Regions from separate parts of the Homo sapiens genome. Here regions 1 and 3 are each reported to be linked to region 2. Evidence: microRNA targets listed by miRTarBase, many of them from high-throughput screens and not tested one by one. Region 2 holds a microRNA gene; each other region holds the end of a gene's coding sequence.
Evidence for each region. Region 2 holds the annotated microRNA hsa-miR-5693 (GCAGUGGCUCUGAAAUGAACUC, at 2,181-2,202, opposite strand). A microRNA usually pairs through its seed, bases 2 to 8, with sites in the 3' UTR of a target mRNA and lowers its output. Matches are read on the target gene's strand: a 7mer-m8 pairs with bases 2 to 8, a 7mer-A1 pairs with bases 2 to 7 and ends in A, and an 8mer does both.

Region 1: miRTarBase lists TMEM40 as a target of hsa-miR-5693. Seed matches in the 3' UTR shown: 7mer-m8 at 1,304-1,310.
Region 3: the mRNA of PHLDA3 is a reported target of hsa-miR-5693. The part of its 3' UTR that is shown has no 7-base or 8-base seed match.

Annotation. Positions count from the first base shown.
Region 1 is chr3:12,732,269-12,735,268 of GRCh38, reverse strand. TMEM40 (transmembrane protein 40) reads left to right here. Exons shown (of 12, transcript NM_018306.4): 12 at 476-1,741. The coding sequence ends at 495. Among named protein-coding and RNA genes, the nearest start is that of TMEM40, 25 kb to the left of the region's middle.
Region 2 is chr13:51,346,396-51,350,015 of GRCh38, forward strand. MIR5693 (microRNA 5693) reads right to left here and starts at 2,244; the gene lies at 2,172-2,244. SERPINE3 (serpin family E member 3) reads left to right here. Exons shown (of 10, transcript NM_001386375.1): 5 at 630-839; 6 at 1,818-2,016. It also overlaps a transcript of INTS6 not described here.
Region 3 is chr1:201,465,943-201,468,942 of GRCh38, forward strand. PHLDA3 (pleckstrin homology like domain family A member 3) reads right to left here. Exons shown (of 2, transcript NM_012396.5): 1 at 2,399-3,000; 2 at 1-236. The coding sequence starts at 2,844. The coding sequence ends at 2,461. Among named protein-coding and RNA genes, the nearest start is that of PHLDA3, 1.7 kb to the right of the region's middle. RefSeq lists enhancers at 2,426-2,485, 2,556-2,695, 2,917-3,000 and a silencer at 2,766-3,000.

The DNA of each region.
Region 1 (3,000 bases), not on the chromosome of region 2:
GGTTAGTCTTCATTCTCTTATAGAACTTTACACTTCCCCAAACGCTGTCTTCTCCATGGCTGTACTTGCCTAATAGCAACTGGGGAGGTAGGCTTTAGCAATGTTACACTTGACCAATAGGAAAATGAGGCTCAGAGAGGTGGAGTGACTCGCCCACAGTCACACAGCTTTAGTGGCTGGGCTGGGCGAAAGCACATCGTCTTTCTTGACTAACAGCTCTGTGACCACCTTATGCCTCAGAATGGAGAGGCCAAGTGGCTGTGTGGCTGTGCTGGGGAAATATCTGTCTCCTTTAATCCATGTAATGAAGAAAAAGAAAACTAGCTATTATGACTGTGGTTCATTGAGACCCATGGCTTCTGGGGTGACTACATCATGCCAGCTGTGAGGGGTACTTGGGCATCTGAGGTGATGGTGGGGATGAAGCCTGGCTGCCTTCAGAATCCCATGCCATCCTGTGGTCTTTGCCTTCCAGGGTTCAGGAAGACTGACTGAGGCCACTTCCAGGTGGGCAGCAGAGGCAGGCCCCAGTGTGACCACCACTGCGACCCCTGAGCCCACAAGGGCAGAGCAGCATTCTGAGAGACGCACAGGAGACCAAGCCAGACCAATAAACAGAACACTTTTCCTTCCATGTGGTCTGAATGTTGGCACCAGCCCGGGCAGGGGCATCTCATTTGGGCAGTACTGCTGTGCAACCCAGCTGCAAGGATGGAAGGCAGAGGGTGGGTGTGGGGCCTGAGGCTTCACAGTACCTGGACCAGCAGGAAGATTCTGGGAGGTCACTGCTCTCAGAGGACAGCAAGGGACCCTGAGCTCTGCAAGCTGTGATCTGTCTGGGTTCATGGTTTTTCTCAAATCCCAGGCTATCTGCATGCGCTCTCAGGTGCTACCGAGCCATCCTGGGAGAGATGGATGGTCCACTGCTTTGAGGCAGGGAGCCATCGGGCTGGGGCCCCTTGGTGAACCTGATGCAGGTAAGATGCTGAGGACTAAAACCATTTTTTTTGCACCCAAAAAAAAAGGCAGGAAAATGATCATCAGAAACTAAATGGCAGCCAGGCATGGGGGCTCACAACTGTAATCCTCGCACTTTGGGAGGCTCAGGCTAAGGGTCGCTTGAAGCTGAGAGTTCAAGACCAACCTGGGCAACATAGTGAGACCCCCATCTCTACAATTTTTTTTTAATGACCAAATGTGGCGGTACATACCTGTACATACCTGCGGTTCCAGCTACTCAAGAGGCTGAGGCAGGAGGACTGCTTGAGCCCAGGAGTTCAGGGCTGCAGTGAGGTACGATCAAGCCACTGCACTCCAGCCTGGGCGACAGAGCAAGATCGTTTCTCTAAAATTAAAAAAAAAAAAAAAAGACAAATAAAAATTGCATGTATTTGTAGTGTACAACATGTTTTGAAATATGTGGAATGGCTAAATCAAGCTAATTAACATATGTATCCCTCACATACCCTTTTTTTATGATGAGAACAGTAAAAACCTACTGTCAGCAATTTGCAAAGTATACAATACATTGTTATTAACTATGGTCACCATGCTATGTGATTGATATCCTGAACTTGAACTGAGTTCTTGATGGTCACAGACATGCTGTTCTCAAAACTCAGAAGGGTAACTTCTGAGGTTTTGATTTCAAGTACTTGTATGTAACCTAATTTAACGGGAGCCCAGAGTGCACAGATCAGATATTTATTAAACATATAAATAAAACACAGTTTTCACGATAGAAGTATGAACTTACTGACTTGGGAACAATGTGGTTAGCCTCATTTTATAGGAATGATGGGTCCCTGTGGCCAGCTCTGCCACTGCCTGGCTGTGATTTTATTTTCTTTCTTTCTTTCTTTCTTTCTTTTTCTTGAGACAGAGTTTTGCTCTTTTGCCCAGCCTGGAGTGAAGTGGTGTGATCTCAGCTCACTGCAACCTCCACCCACCATATTCAAGTGATTCTCCTGCCTCAGCCTCCTGAGTAGCTAGGATTATAGGCACCTGCCACCACACCTGGCTAATTTTTGTATTTTTGGTAGAGATGGGTTTTCACCATATTGGCCAGGCTGGTCTCAAACTCCTGACCTCAGGTGATCCACCTGCCTCGACCTCCCAAAGTGCTAGGATTACAGGCGTGAGCCACCAATGCTGGCCCTGGCTGTGATTTTGGTCAAGTCCTCCCCTCTCCCAGCCTTAATGTTCTCATCTGTACAATGGGGAGCATAACAGTGCCCACCTCACGGTATTATGTTGAGAACTGCATGAGATAATTACATAAAGTCTTATGCACAGACTCTGGCACATAGGTGATGCTCAATCAATGGGCGTTATTACATTAGACAGGAGCACAAATCAGATCCCCTTAGGGTCAGGCATACAGAGTCAGCAAGATGTAGAAAAGTGGGGGCTGGGTGCAGTGGCTCACACCTATAATCCCAATACTTTGGGAGGCCAAGGTGGGTGGATTGCTTGAGATCAGGAGTGTAGTAGCGTGTACCTGTGGACCTAGCTACTTGGGAGGCTGGAGTGGGAGAATCGCTGGAGCCCAGGAAGTCAAGGCTGCAGTGAGCCATGATCATACCACTGCACCCCAGCCTGGGTGACAGAGCGAGACCCGGTATCAAAAAAATAAAAATAAAAATGAAAAAAGTAGGGAGCAGGAAGAGGGGAACAGAAGAGCATATACCTGACCAAAGGGGGCAGCTGCTGTCTAGCAATTCCAGGTGAGAACACCAGCTAAGTGGGATCTGTCAGCCAAGCGAACGAAAACCACACCAGGTGCTTTAACAGAAAGAATTTAATAGAGGGACATGTTAACCAGGTGCAGGACTACTAGAAACGCAGAAAGGGACCATAGTATCACAAAGTGTAACTGAGGGAACTGCCTAGGGCTAGAGAGAAAAAGGAAAGAGGTTGTAGCTATTAGAAGTGAGAGGCCGGGGCCAGGTGTGGTGGCTCACACATGTAATCCCAGCACTTTGAGAGGCCGAGATGGGC
Region 2 (3,620 bases):
GAATGTCTAATAATTCCTAGGAAATGGCCCCAAACAGAACCAGGAGCAGCATCCCAACCTGTTCAGAAAAGAATAAAAAGCAGGGTCTTCAGCAACAGCTGGTTATAAACACATATCAATTTGCAATGAACATATTTTAATAAATACTCTACCAACCCAACTCCAGAGATGACTCACTGCCCCCACCTCCCCTGACTGGTCACCCAGGTGTCAGGACTTCTGAGTTCTCACTTTCCATTTCCCTCTCCACACCCTCATCCCCCAGCAGGGGTTGTCATTGTCGCCCCCATACCCAGCCCTACAGAGCCTCTGACTCTGGCCCTGTGAGGTTATCTTAAAGACTCTAGGTCTAGGATTTTTATAAAATGACCATATCGCTCAACAGTCCCCAAAAGTTGAGAGCAGCTCCTGGTGCCTTGGGTCCCTGACAGCACAAGGAGCTGAGACAGGGAATTAAATATTCTTAAGTAGACTAAAAAGATATTGTAAGATGAAGAGAGAGACCACCTTAAGCAAAAAGACCTGCATTTTCGCATTTTAACTCTGCACTCCTTGTCCGCACACACACTGGGTTCGGTTCAGTTTCAATGCACATTTAACCCATGGCCACCTTGCTTTCCTGCTTGCAGGTGGGGGCCCCAGTGAGGGCCCTGGTGGCTGGCCGTGGGAGCAAGTCAGTGCAGCATTTGCTCAGCTTGTGCTTGTGAGCACCATGTCCTTCCAAGGCACTTGGCGAAAGAGATTCTCCTCCACAGACACACAGATCCTGCCTTTCACCTGTGCCTATGGCCTCGTCCTTCAGGTCCCCATGATGCACCAAACGACCGAGGTCAACTACGGTGAGCTCTGCCCCTGCTGGTTTGTCTAAAGGGAGAGGAAGCCTGGGCCTGAGGGCAGGAGAGAGGAGGCCAGGTCCCTGCTCCTAAGGGATCGGGATGTGTTTCCGCAGGGTCCATCTGCTGGACTGGGCATGCATGGCGGAAGGAAAGACTAAGGTGCCCGGAGACTTTAGAGAGGAGTGTGGGACAGTGTGCTCTGACAGGACAGTGAGGACACAGATGTGGAAGAGAAACTCAGTTTCATGCCTGACATTTCCTTCTGCACTAGTAGAGTTTGGACCAAACTGCCACCCTGGCAGGCACAATAGGCCGGGATTGAATGGCTGCTCCTTTAAGATCGGGTACAGTAGTACCCTGTACCCTTATCCATGATTTTGCTTTTTTGAGGTTTCAGTTATCCGCATCAGAAAATATTAAATGGAAAATTTCACAAATAATTCTCAAGTTTTAAACTGCACGCCCTTCTGAATAGTGTGGTGAAATTTCCTGACGTCCTTCTCTGTTCCACCTGAGATATGAACCATCCCTTTGTCCAGCATCCCCAGGCTGTCTACAGTATGCCCGTTGGTCACTTAGTAGCCATCTCAGTCATCAGATCGAGAAAACATAGTATATGCAGGGCTCGTTACCATCCACAGGTTCAGGCCTCTACTGGGGTTCTTGGAGCATATCTGCCAAGGATAAGGGGGCACTACTCTATGTGGTTCTGCATGTGCCATCGTCCCCCCCCCCATACCCAGTCCTAGAGAACCTCTAACTCTGGTCCTGTGAGGGTATCTTAAAGACTCTAGGTCTAGGATTTTTATAAAATGACCATATCGCCCAACAGTCTTTGGCCTGAAACCGCCTCCTGAGGGTGAGGTGGATGCTCGGTTTTATTGTTTCCAGTCCTCTGAGCCAGCCTCTCTCAGGGTCCGACACTGGTTCATTCTCCTGGCTCCTGGGACAGAGCTGACCTCTGATCCACTGTACCCTCAGGTCAGTTCCAGGACACTGCAGGCCATCAGGTGGGGGTGCTGGAGCTTCCTTACCTGGGAAGTGCAGTGAGTCTGTTCCTGGTGCTGCCCCGTGACAAAGACACCCCCCTGAGCCACATCGAGCCACACCTCACAGCCAGCACCATCCACCTCTGGACCACCAGCCTGAGGAGAGCCAGGATGGATGTGTTCCTGCCCAGGTGAGCAGCTGAGTCCCCCTCACAGGTGCTGTGCAGCCAGCAGTCAGAAGAGCGTGGATTTGCACACAGGTGGTCTGCCTCCAGGGTCTGTGCTTAGCCACTGGGATGACTTGTTTAATATGTATCCCCAGAAGTTAGACCAAGAGGAAGTGACCCTAGAGTTTGAGTTCATTTCAGAGCCACTGCTGGCTAGCTCACAGCACAGACTGAAATGAACTAACTTCCCAGAGTCTTTCCAAGACAAGATATTCTGCCTTCACTGGGCTGGAATGGAGCCCCCCAGGACCCCCTGATCCAGCCCTAGGCTGGACCAGTTTTTGGAAAGGAAATGCTCGTGGTTCCCTTGTAGGAACGTTGCCCAAATCTTATCCCATCCTAAGAGTATACAACTGTCATTTTTCCAAAACCAAAGAGATAAGATGACTTACGTAATTGAGCAAGTACAGATAAAATTCTGATCAGACGCCAAATTAAGGCATAAAATTTTGACACTTTAAGTCTCTGTGCAGAAGGTTCTCATTCTTTCTAAATGGAGGTGAACTCTCCTTTAAGAAGACCCAATAGGTACAAATACAAATCAAAAAGTGAAGTGGTGGCATTCTATGTTGCTTTTTCAAAACAAAATCTATTAGCAAAACTCATAACTTTACAAAAAGACTCCTCTTAGGGCTTCTTTAAATGATGAGCTTCTGTGATGTATTTGAAATCAGAGTAAATTTATAACCATTTTTTGACCAGCATTAAGCAAGGAATGTTGTCCAGTAGCCACTAGATGCCTTGGCCTCTCTCCACTGCCTGGGCTTCCAGTAGGCAAAGGCAAAGTCCTTGGCAGTACTCCCTTGAGGAGTTAAAAGTAAATCTATGCACTAGAAGGAAAAAATACAAAGAGAGACCCAGTAAGTTAAGGGCCAAGGTCTAAAGTGAGATCTGGCATAACCCAGGGCAAAAGGTGCACTTAACTCTAAGGTAAAGTGTATCTCTCAAAACTAAATATTTGGACCCCAAACCAAAACCCAAATACTGGATATTTCAACAGATCTCTCAGGGAGGGAGCAGAAGCAACCCTAATCTTCCTATTATATTTGAGAGAAACTCAGCAAGGGAAGGAAGAGCAGCGTTCCGTGTCAAAAGTAGAGAGAAAAAGGAGGCTGGTGCGAGAATTCGCCACAACCTTTTTGGGTTTAAGAGACAGATGGTGGGACTCATCCTCGAGCAGTTCTTCCCTGGAAGAGACCCCGGGGAAATTCCCAGCTCCACTGAGAACTCTCCACCGTCCTGATTCTGCTTTTAGGAGTCTCAAACCCTCAAGCAGTTTGAAAACTGAAAAACACTGGCAGGCAGGGAAGGCAAGGCAAGGCAGAAATCTTAGTAACACAACTATTAGTTAGCACTTAACCTCATTCTGATAATTTTTTTTAAATCTCCTTAAGACTACCAAGACTGCTGTCCAAGGAGGATAGAGGTTTTTAGGAAAATGAAGTTATTTCACAAGTAAAACTAACCAAGTTTTTTTTGTTTGTTTTTAAGCTAGCTTTAAATCCTTTGGGGAACAAAACAAAAAAAGTAAAAACTCTCTTAGGTCTAGATTTAGGTATAAACTTTGG
Region 3 (3,000 bases), not on the chromosome of region 2:
CCCCCTCATGCCATATGAGGCCAGGCCTGTGGCTCGAAGCCCCTGAGCTGGGCATGTCCTGAGAGTCTGGGACCATCCAGGGGCTGCATCTTCATCCTCAGCCCTGCGTAGCCTTCTGCCCTCCTCCCAGGGCTCGTCCATTCCTTCAGCTCCAGCGCCTCCTCCACACGTCCATGCCTTCCACCTTGCCACATGGAGCACAGCCGTGCCCCCACAAGCCAGAGGGAACAACGAAGCTGGCAAGAAAGAACAGCAGTTAGAGCAGGGGCAACAATGGAGAAAGGAGTATCTATTATGAGCTTGGGCATTTTACACCAGCACTTCCCAGCCTTTTCCATAAACATGGAAAACATTTTTTGCATACGTACTGTGGTAAAGGAATCTGCTTCCTCCCAGGCCCCCAAGACCTGAGGGATCAATGTGGATCAATCCTCAGCACAGGGGGTCTGCCTTATACCCCACTTCTCAGCTAAACCCTAACTACAATGTGGGAGGGCATTAACAGGACCATCAAAGTGGGGTATGGCACTAGATGGGGCCCCAGGCTCACTAGGACTCTCTACTGTTGAAGACATCTGCAGGCGGGTAAGGTCGCCTAGGAGGTGGTAGTGGGGAGAGAAGGATCTAGGTTTCCACTGGAAAAATTAAGGCTAGAAGGAAGGCTAAATCCTTTCTCAGCCCTACTCCTACTTCTCACAAGAAGGGAGTGGCATCTGGGGAAGAGGGCACAGGGCTGAGAGCCAGGGCTTCCAGATTCTATTCCTGGCCCCTCCCCTGGGCCTTCCTGACCACAAATCCGCCCCCCACTCCCTGCCCTACTGCTCATAGAGGATTAAGACATCACAAATAACAACTCATGACCCCATCCTGCTGCACCCACCCACCCTGCCCCAGTGCCCCATGCCCTCCTCCAGCTTCTCCTTCCCTGGCCCAGCCAGGCCTGACTGGCACTCAGGGGCAGGTAGACAGCTAGGCCCCCACCCCTTGGCATCAGTGGCCCAGCCTCTGGCGCAGTTGCCTATCCTTCAGCTCCCTTGCTCTCCTAACAGTGAGCCCTAGGGCTCAAAACCCACTGTCAAGAATGGGGACCAGGTGTGGTGGCTTACACCTGTAATCTTAGCACTTTGGGAGGCCAAGGTGGGCAGATTGCTTGAGCTCAGGAGTTCGAAACCAGCATGGGCAACGTGGGGAAACCCCAAATCTACAAAAAAAAAAATTAGCCAGGCATGGTGGCGTGTGCCTGTAGTCCCAGCTACCTGGAGGCTGAGGTGGGAGGATCGCTTGAGCCCAAGAGGTTGAAGCTGTTGAGGCTGCAGTGAGCCATGACTATGCTACTGCACCAGTCTGGGCGACAGGTAGAGATCCTGTCTCAAAAATATATATATAGGCTGGGTGCAGTGGCTCACACCTGTAATCCCAGCACTTGGGGAGGCCGAGGCAGGCAGATCACCTGAGGTCAGGAGTTCAAGACCAGCCTGGCCAACATGGCGAAACCCCATCTCTACTAAAAATACAAAAATTAGCAGGGTGTGGTGGCAGGCACCTGTAATCCCAGCTGTTCTGGAAGCTGAAGCAGGAGATTTGCTTGAGCCCAGGAGGTAGAGGTTGCAATGAGCCAAGATCACACGACTGTACTCCAGCCTGGGTGACACAGCGAGACTCTGTCTCAAACAACAACAACAACAACAACAAACCATACACACACACACACACACACACACACACACACACACACACACATATGTAGAGGAGGAGCTGGATCCCTCAGGCCCAGTCCAGCCAAGGCGGCCCACTGAGGCCCCACCTTCCACTGAGGCCCCACCTTGGGAGCCGGACTCCTTGGCTCTATTTGCAACCCTTGATGGTGCCTTCGCCATCTGGGAGATACTGTCTTTCTACATCAATTCAATGCTCAAACTTTATGACAAGCATTCAACCTAGAGGGAAAGAGGGTCGGCCTCCACGATCCGCGTCCCCACCCTCGGTTGTCCTCAGCTGCCAGAAAGCCGAAGTCCAGGAGCCCTGCTCTGCGTGGAAAGCAGAGGCCCACAGCCTGGGGCAATGTGCAGGCCAACCTCCCTCTACTTCCTTCCACCTGAGTCAGGGCTGAACCAACTTGAAAGAAGGCTCATCTCACCCAGGTATCCCCCTCCCAGGGCTTCCATCTTCCTCTCACACACCTGGATCACATTCTGGACCGGCCAACCTGGTGCCTCAGGGGAAAGTCCGGATCTGCTGGGTTGGCCACTGGCCCAAGCCTCCCATGCCCTCAGTTGGCCCCAGGAACCTCCCCCCTAAGATGTCCGGCTCTGAAGTAGAATGCTAGTCCTCATTCTCTCTGTAGGGGAAAGAGAAGGGAGGGAAGGAGAGAAGAGGGCCCAGTCCCCCGGGGGCTTACCTGCCTTGACCTCAGCACTGAGGTGGTGGGTAGCATGAAGGAAAGATGGTGCGCCCGGTGGTTTAGGACACGAGGGTCCCGGTCCCGAGGCTCTGCCGGGCCCGCACTGTCTGGATGGCCTGCTGGTTCTTGAACTTGACCAGGCCTAGGGTGATCTGGGCGTTCCAGCCGGGATCTTCCAGGGGGCAGCGGAAGTCGATCTCGCCGCCCCCTTCGGTCACCAGCGTGAAGTAGATGTGGCGCCCGGTGCTCTCCACGCACTCCACGGCCTTGATGCGGGCGAAGCTGAGCTCCTTGGGCCGGCCGCCCGTGCCCTTGGCCTCGAAGAGCTGCAGCCCGCGTTCGGTGAGGACGCAGCGCTTCCGCTTCCACAGCTGCAGCAGCCCGCCGCTGCGCTTCTCCAGCACGCCCTCCTTGAGCACGGTAGCCGTCGCCGCCGCCGTCATGGGCGCCCCGAGGTTCGCGGAAAGCTCCAGGCTGCGGCGGGCGCGGCGCCCCTCTCGGCCCCGCAGCGCAGGATTCTGGCGCCCCGGGCTGGCAGGCCGTGCGCGCTGCCCACCTGCGCCCTGACTGCTCCGCGCACCCACACCGCGGCCCTCAGC